2 separate regions of the Homo sapiens genome follow, and region 1 is reported to be linked to region 2. The links are microRNA targets in miRTarBase. Many come from high-throughput screens and were not tested one by one. Region 2 holds a microRNA gene; the other region holds the end of a gene's coding sequence.

The links. The annotated mature microRNA hsa-miR-5690 reads UCAGCUACUACCUCUAUUAGG and lies in region 2 at 2,245-2,265, opposite strand. An mRNA with a match to its seed (bases 2 to 7 or 8) in the 3' UTR can be bound and repressed. Matches are read on the target gene's strand: a 7mer-m8 pairs with bases 2 to 8, a 7mer-A1 pairs with bases 2 to 7 and ends in A, and an 8mer does both.
Region 1: miRTarBase lists ELP6 as a target of hsa-miR-5690. The part of its 3' UTR that is shown has no 7-base or 8-base seed match.

Annotation. Positions count from the first base shown.
Region 1 is chr3:47,492,292-47,496,668 of GRCh38, forward strand. It overlaps ELP6 (elongator acetyltransferase complex subunit 6), which reads right to left. Exons shown (of 7, transcript NM_001031703.3): 7 at 3,349-3,906. The coding sequence ends at 3,778. Among named protein-coding and RNA genes, the nearest start is that of SCAP, 19 kb to the left of the region's middle.
Region 2 is chr6:35,662,516-35,666,909 of GRCh38, forward strand. MIR5690 (microRNA 5690) reads right to left here and starts at 2,274; the gene lies at 2,202-2,274. All of the region lies in intron 1 of FKBP5 (FKBP prolyl isomerase 5), which reads right to left. RefSeq lists enhancers at 181-682, 683-1,182.

The DNA of each region.
Region 1 (4,377 bases), not on the chromosome of region 2:
GGGCACGGTGGCTCACACCTGTAATCCCAGCACTTTGGGAGGCCGAGGCAGGCGAATCACGAGGTCAGCAGATCAAGACCATCCTGGCTAACATGGTGAAACCCCGTCTCTACTAAAAATACAAAAACTTAGCTGGGCGTGGTGGCAGGCACCTGTAGTCCCAGCTACTCGGGAGGCTGAAGTAGAAGAATCGCTTGAACCCGGGAGGTGGAGGTTGCAGTGAGCCAAGATTGCGCCACTGCACTCCAGCCTGGGCAACAGGGCAAGACTCTGTCTCAAAATAAATAAATAAATAAAAATAAAATCCTGGACTCAAGTGATCTGCCTGCCTCAGCCTCCCAAAGTGCTGGGATTACAGGCATGAGCCACCATGCCCGACCAACACCAGGTTTTAATTGATAAGTAAGCAAGGATAAGGAACAGATTCTGTACACACGGAAAAATACAGAGAAAATTATATGCTAGTGATTAAAGAAATGTCCATTTCACACTAGAATCATTTTTATGGACCATATCACACCTTATGATCCTGTTTTTCTACCCCTGTATTAGTCCATTCTCACACAACCACCACTATTAAATTAATTAAAAATAAGTTAAACCCAAAGTTGACAGAGCAAAATCTCTGCATCATTGTCAACTGGCTCCATCATTCTGAAGAACAACCTGATAATGTGCCAGGGCCAGTTTCTGCTGTAATTCAATAATTCCATTAGAGGGTATGGACTAAAATGTCATCACCCCTCACTTCTCACAGGCCCCTGTGCTGGTTTATTTATAGCACTTATTGTGGTCTAAGTTAAATATGTCCTTTGTCGATTCTGTTGATTGCCTGTCTTCTCTTCCAGAACGTAAGTTCTATGAGCTCTGCCAGTGACCTGGTTTGTCAGGTTCTAAACAAACAAGTACTTATCCCCACCCGCAATAGGTAGAGTATATAAAATTTATAACAGCATAATTGATAACTGTAAAAACCAGAATCTACATGCCCAGAGGATAACTAAACAAACTAGAATATAATGATAGCATAAAATGCTGAATAGCTTTTTTTTTTGAGACTGAGTTTTGCTCTTGTTGCCCAGGCTAGAGCACAATGGTGCATTCTCGGCTCACTGCAACCTCCGCCTCCTGGGTTCAAGTGATTCTCCTGCCTCAGCCTCCCAAGTAGCTGGGATTACAGGTGCCCACCACCACGCCCAGCTAATTTTTGTATTTTTAGTAGAGATAGGGTTTCACCATATTGGCCAGGCTGCTCTTGAACTCCTGACCTCAGGTGATCCACCCGCCTTGGCTTCCCAAAGTACTGGGATTACAGGCGTGAGCCACTGTGCCCCGCCCTCAATAGCTATTAAACATAAAATATTTAAGGGGAGGCTGAGACGGGAGGATCTCTTGAGCCCAGGAGTTCAAGACTACCCTGGGCAGCAAAGTGACACCCCGTTTCTACAAAAAAATTAAAAACAGCCAGGCATGGTGGTGGGCACCTGTAGTACCAGCTACTCAGAATGCTGAGGTAGGGGAGGATCACTTGGAATTCACGTGAACTAAGAAGTGCCACACTGCACTCCAGCCTAGGCAACAGAGAGAACCTGTCTCAAAAAAAATAGTGAAAACATCTATAAACTAAGTGAAGAAACATGATAGCAACATTTATGTCATGTAAAAAATGGTGCCTTGCCCATTCAAAATCGTAGCTCAAACGAAGTTTGCATAAATAATGAAGTCTTAGTCAAAGAATCATTAGATTCTTTAATAACTACTTTCTCTTAATTGCACTCATAACTTTCAAATATTCTATCAGGTCTACAGTATTTTGAGAATAAAAGCAGCTTACTGTTTCAGACGGATAACATACACAATGGTATGATTTGAAGAGAAGTGTGATAAATTTTTCCTAAAGACTAAAAATCCAAAAAGTTAAAATTAAACAACAGATATGAGCTGGGCGTGGTGACACGCACCTGTAATCCCAGCTACTTGGGAGACTGAAGTGGGAAGAGCCCTTGAGCCCAGAGAGTCGAGGCTGCAGTGAGCTATAACCACACCACTGCAGTCCAGCCTGAGCAACAGAGAGAGACCATGTCTCAAAACAAAGAAAAGAGGCTGGGCATGGTGACTCATGCCTGTAATCCCAGCACTTTGGGAGGCCAAGGCAGGCAGATCACCTGAGGTCAGGAGTTCAAGACGAGCCTAGCCAATATGGCAAAACCCCATCTCTACTAAAAATACAAAAATTAGCTGGGCACAGTGGCACGTGCCTGTAATCCCAGCTACTTGGGAGGGTGAGGCAGGAGAATAGCTTGAACCCGGGAGGCGGAGGTTGTGGTGAGCCAAGATCATGCCACCACTGCACTCCAGCCTGGGTGACAAAGCAAGACTCCATCTCAAAAAAAAAAAAAAAAAAAAAAAAAAAAAGGCCAGGCATGGTGGCTCACATGCCTGTAATCCTAGCACTTTGGGAGGCCAAGGCAGGCGGATCATGAGGTCAGGAGATCAAGACCATCCTGGCTAGCACGGTGAAACCCCGTCTCTACTAAAAATACAAAAAATTAGCCGGGCATGGTGGCAGGTGCCTGTAGTCCCAGCTACTTAGGAGGCTGAGGCAGGAGAATGGCATGAACCCGGGAGGCGGAGCTTGCAGTGAGCCGAGATCGGGCCACTGCACTCCAGCCTGGGTGACAGAGCAAGACTGTCTCAAAAAAAGAAAAGAAAAGAAAAGAAAATAACAGCTATGTAAGTTCCTTAGTATACAGCAAAATAGTATTATTTTTTCATTTTCTTTAAGATAAAATTCATTGTAATATAATTTATATACCAAAAAAGCAGCCATTTTAAGAGAATACACCTGGTGTCTACTCTGAGGTGACCTCAACTGAGGGGCTGAGTGGGACTAGTTGTCATCTACAGGATGCGGGGCAAGAGCCCACCTCCTGCAGTCTTCACAGGTGAGGGAGGCACCAGCAACTCGCCAAGGCCTGATCCGCCTGGCAGCAAGAACATCCCTTACCCCTCTCACCAAGACCATACACACCTGCGCCTACACAGGGCCTCATGTGGCCAAGGCCCTGGTGCCAGGCCCTTGATGGCTAGGATTTGTTGGCATAAAGGCAAGGCACCACAGAAACTGGAGAAGCCAAAGGTCCCCACCTTTGGGTGGGGAGCTGGCCTCTGGGTTCCATGACTGTCAGTCAGCAAGTGTGGACTGTGGAGTGAGGCACAGTTACTTACAGCCTGCTGTGCAGCCTGTGTGCTTCCAAACCTCTCTAGGTCTGTTTCCTCGCTGAACTCATAGGGAAAGGGAAAGTACCTTTCCAGGATGGAAATTGAACAAGACAACCCACAGGAAGCTCCAGTGTGGAAACTTACTTTATTCCAGCCATGATTATCCTAGTTGTCACCTTGCACACCTGCCATCCGGTGCCATCTCCTGGCTGGCACATCTATACCCACTCTGGCTCTGAAAGGCTTGTCAACCAAAAATGGGCAGCTGGGGCTAAGGCATATTTAAACAAAGGCTCCAAAGGACCCCTTTCACTTGGGTCTAGCATCCAGCCTCTCTCTCAGCAAAGGCAGGATTGTGGTCCCTTGTGTTTTCTGAACAGGGCCCAGGGCAGCCAAGGCATGCCATCACTGCAGCACTCAACCCTCTGGTCACAGTGGAGTCGCCGGTCCAGCCTGAAATATTACTACAGAGGAGAAAGACCCATTCTTGCTATGTTGCTCTATCTTCCACGTCCAAAAACAGTCCTATGTAGCTTCAGCTGCTCCGAAATCAGGTCACAGAACAGCAGGAGACATTCCTTTGGCAAAAAAGGACACGCTTTTGTCCTGTATCTTATACTGGTAAGTGAAGCTCTGATCCCGGTGGACTGCGGGCTGCGATGGTCTCCTCCACAGGATCCTCAGCTACAGAGACAGAGAAGAATGAAAGAGGAGCAGCCACCCCAGGACCTGCTCCACTGGGAACCCCACCCTACCTTCTCTGTGCCCTTCAGCTGAGGCCTCTATGAGATGATAGTCAGATGTGCCATCTGGTAATGGGGCCAACTTGTAAAATAAAGCCTATCACCAGCTAACTACAAATAAAGGGTTCCCCTCCATTACAGTAGTCATATTGGCTCAATACAGAAAATGTGAAAGAGGAAAAAAAAAGGAAACAGAAGGAAAAAGTCTTTCAGAGGAAGACCCTTAAAGTATTTTTATGTTTTTTTTTTTTTTTTTTGAAGCAGAGTCTCACTCTGTTGCCCAGGCTGGAGTGCAGTGGCGCAATCTTGGCTTACTGCAACCTCTGCCTCCTAGGTTCAGGCAATTCTCCTGCTTCAGCCTCCCAAGTAGCTGGATTATGGGTGCGCATCACCATGCCTGGGCAATTTTTGT
Region 2 (4,394 bases):
TCAAGCGATCCTGCCACCTCAGCCTCCCAAAGTGCTGGGATTACAGATGTGAGCCATCACGCCTGGCTGTGTCCAAATATATTTCAACAAACTGCATCTCAAACTGGGTATACTAATATTTGGTGCCACTAGTAAGTATATATAAATATATAAGAGAACAAGGATTACCTAGCTATCATAATTACAGTAAATTTGTTTTGTTAATAGGAACTCATTTTAATTGTGCATTCATTTTTGCTGCTTTTGGCCCTTAGTTGTTTGAAAGCCAATAGTTTTCTAATTATACTATGAATCCTACACACCATGAATACCTACTGAATATGAAATGTCTGTAAGACCCTGTTCTAGGAGCTACAAAGAAAACTGAAATAAGTTAGCCCAAGGATTTTTTGTGAAGGCAAAGAAACATTTTAATTCCAAATAATTATTATTAGGTAGAAGAGAGCTACAAAGTGTTTCTGAGGGTCCCAAGGAGGCAGAAGATGGCAGTGTCTGAGCTGGATAGGCATACTTTCAACCGGCAAGGGTGTGGCAAGAGTAAAATCAAGGCTGGTAAAAGAACACAGCACGTTTCAAGCCTAAGCAGCTTAAGTGCAAAGTGGCTCCGGGTGGAAATGATGAGAGAGCAAGAGCACAAAGAGGACCCTCTAAAACAGAGCCAGTGACCATGTGAGCTGAGGGGGAGGGCTTCTCACAGGGCAAACGGTACAGAAAGACGCGAAGACACAAAGCATCATGACCCATCCAGGGAGCTGCATGTGATCCCACTTGGCTAAAGTGAAGGGTACATGTGGGAAAGAAGCAGATGATGCTAAATAAACAGGCAGAGGCCTGACTGTGAAGGACCTTGTGTGCCAAAGTAAAGTACGTGAACATTATTCCAAAGGCAACAGGGAACTGAGGCATTTTTAAGAAAAGAAATGACAAGCAGACTAGCTTTAAGAAAAAATTACTCTGGCACTCCAATGGTTTCCCATCTCACACAGGATAAAATCCAAAGTCCTTCTTATGCTTAATACCCTATACATGCTGATCACTCGCTATCTCTGAAATTATTTCTCCTTTTCCCTCACTCACTGCTCTGGCTACAGTGGCCTTCTTGCTGCCCCCTCCCATGTGCCCTTTCCTCAGTGCCTTTGCACTTGCTATCCCCACTACCTGGAACTCTTCCCTGGTTAGCTGCATAGCTCACTCCCTCACTCGCTTCAGGTCTGCCTTCATGTTCAAACCTTTTCTTATCAGAGTTGTTTTACTGTTACCGGAAATAAAAGAGCAAAAATCGACTATAATCAGCCCCACTATGTTTTCCTCCAGTGTATTTATAGTATTTGTATACTGCCTGTCTCTCCTTACTAGAATGTAAGCTCTATGATGGATCTCTTCAATAACCGTGTGACATTGAGATTGTTACTACTGACACGTCCAGACAGCAAATCTAATGGACGAGCTAAGTAATCTATCCAAGGATATACTTCTAGTGAACAGTGGAACCAGGGAGACTGACTCTGGAGCCTGCACTCTAACTATTTTACATACTGACTCCCCAGAAGTGTCACAGGTCTCTGACTCTGATTCTAAAGCATTTCCTGTGAACAGGCTCCATGCTGACAAGCACTAAGCCAGCAAAAATTCTGAATTCACAGTATGTTCTTCTAAAAAGATGGTGATTCTTACAATTTGTATTAGCCAAGTTTTAAAAGCCAGGGAATATTTTTTAAATAATCAATTAAAATGTACAAAGTATCTGGACTTTTACCTATCCAAAAATTAGCTGTTTTTTTTTTAGACCCACAGATATTCAAACAAGATGAAAGATTTTATGAACTAAAAGGAACACAGCATATGACACCAAAAACTACCCAAGACCCTTTTTCCGTTACCATATTCAATTTCAGGAATAAAACTCAACATCTTTAAAATAATCATCAAATTTTCTGACATGCCACTCCCGGAGGAAGAACAATGTGGTATCTACAGGAAAACATCCAGCAAATACAGTATCTCATGCACAGTAAAAGAATGAAAGGTAGGCTGCAGTAACATTTGTCTTTATTCTTTCCCCACTCCTGAAATTATTAAATTTCCTCTCTGCCTGGGCATTCTTTCATCCCATCTCCCATTACTATCAGTATCCTCTCCTTAAAATGCAGTTGTCAATCAACAGTTGTCCCCATCAACCACTTCATACCAGAACTCATCCACTCTTAATTTCAACTATTACCTCTATTAGTATAACTCCCAAATCCTAATAGAGGTAGTAGCTGAAATTAAAAGTGGCATAATTTCTCCCTCTTTCCTTCTCCAATCTTTGATTTCTCTCACTTCAGGACCCTTTTATTTCCTTATGTTTTTAAGGAAAATTAACTTTTTCAAAATTGGTCCCTTCTCCATTTATTTCATAATCTGTATTATCTGGCCATTCTCCTAGGTTTGCAACTTCAATATAATTTTTCTCCACTTAATCAATAGGACCGCCAACTATTCATTGTGTTTCTTATCTTACTTTCGACTCCATAGCTATCATCATATTTTGAGTTTTCTTCCTCTCCTTTGTGAATTACTACAGTTCTCCAGAGGACCTGCCTACCTCCAGACGGCTCACTCACTCCCACTCATTCTGTATACACTGCTAGTGAAGCCTTTCTGACACAGCACACCCACCACATTACTCTCTAATTCATGGACCTTAAATAGTGTTCCAACACAACAAATCTAAACTTCTCAAACCAGCACTCAGGGTCTTCTGCTCCTTTAGAATGTCACTAGTAAATGCTCCTCTTTTTTTTTTTTTTTAGAGGAGTCTCACTCTGTCACCAAGCTGGAGTGCAGTGGCGCGATCTCGGCTCACTGCAACCTCCGCCTCCCAGGTTCAAGCAATTCTCCTGCCTCAGCCTCCCGAGTAGCTGGGACTACAGGCGCGTGCCACCACACCCAGCTAATTTTTTTTGTATTTTTAGTAGAGATAGGGTTTCACTATGTTTGCCAGAATGGTCTCAATCTCTTGACTTCATGATCCGCCCGCCTCGGCCTCCCAAAGTGCTGGGATTATAGGCATGAGCCACCGTGCCTGGCCATAAATGTTTATCTTAAACATTCTAAAAAGATAAAAACCTAGAAACCCAACATTCTGATCTTCTTCATCTAAATCTGTACAATACACACTATGGGTCTGTAGAGGTCATAGTACACTATCTTCCACCTAACTTCAACAGATCACATCAGGCAATGGAACTATGGACAGTCCCCAACTTATGGTTTGGGTTACGAGTTTCAACTTTATGATGGTGAGAAGGCGATACACATTCAGTAGAAACAGTACTCCAAGCACCCATACAACTATTCTGCTTTTTCACTTTCAGTTTTCAATAAATTATGTGAGACATTCAACACATTATAAAATAGGCATTCTATTAGATGGTTTTGCCCAACTGTAGGCTAATTTAAGTGTTCTGAGCATGTGTAAGGTAGGCTATGATGTTCAGTAAGTTAGGTATATTAAATGCATTTTCAACTTGTGATATTTTCTATTTACAATGAGTTTATCAGGAGGTAAAACCACCATAAGCCAAGGAACATATATATTACCTAATGTATCATCTTCTGAACATCTCAAGCTACTATGACAAGGATTCATTTTCAGAAGTTTAATCCTTCTAATCCACAAAATTAAAGTGTGTACAGTTATCAGAAAAATAACACTTCATATCTTTAGTAAGAGTACAAATTTGTTGAATATTTTTAAGGGCGAATTTCCCAATATCTACTGAAAGTTTATGTGCAAATATCCTTTAGCCCAGCAATATCACTTCCAGGAAATAACCTGTAGATATTCTCACAGAAGCAAGCAAAAATACATGCAGAAACACTACTATTATAGTTAAAAAAAAAAAAAAAAAAAAAAAAAGGAGGGGAGTGGATTTCCTTCATAGACTTCTATTATACATCTCTACAATGGAAAATTATATAATTAAAAATAAAGACACAGTTACAAACGAATTGATATGGAAAGTTTAAGAATGCCATGAAGGGGAAAAAAAGCTATTTATAGAACAGAATATAATTATTCTATTTGTGTAAAGAAAATGTATATGAAGGCTGGGCACGGTGGCTCACGCCTGTAATCCCAGAACTTTGGGAAGCTGAGGCAGGCGGATCACGAGTTCAAGAGATCAAGACCATCCTGGCCAACACAGTGAAACCCCGTCTCTACTAAAAATACAAAAATTAGCCGGGCATGGTGGCAGGCGCCTATAATCCCAGCTACTCGGGAGACTGAGGCAGGAGAATCCCTTGAACTCGGGAGGTTGCAGTAAGCCGAGATTGCACCACTGCACTCCAGCCTGGGCGACAGAGCGAGACTCTCTCAAAAAAAAGAAAAGAAAGAAAATGTATAT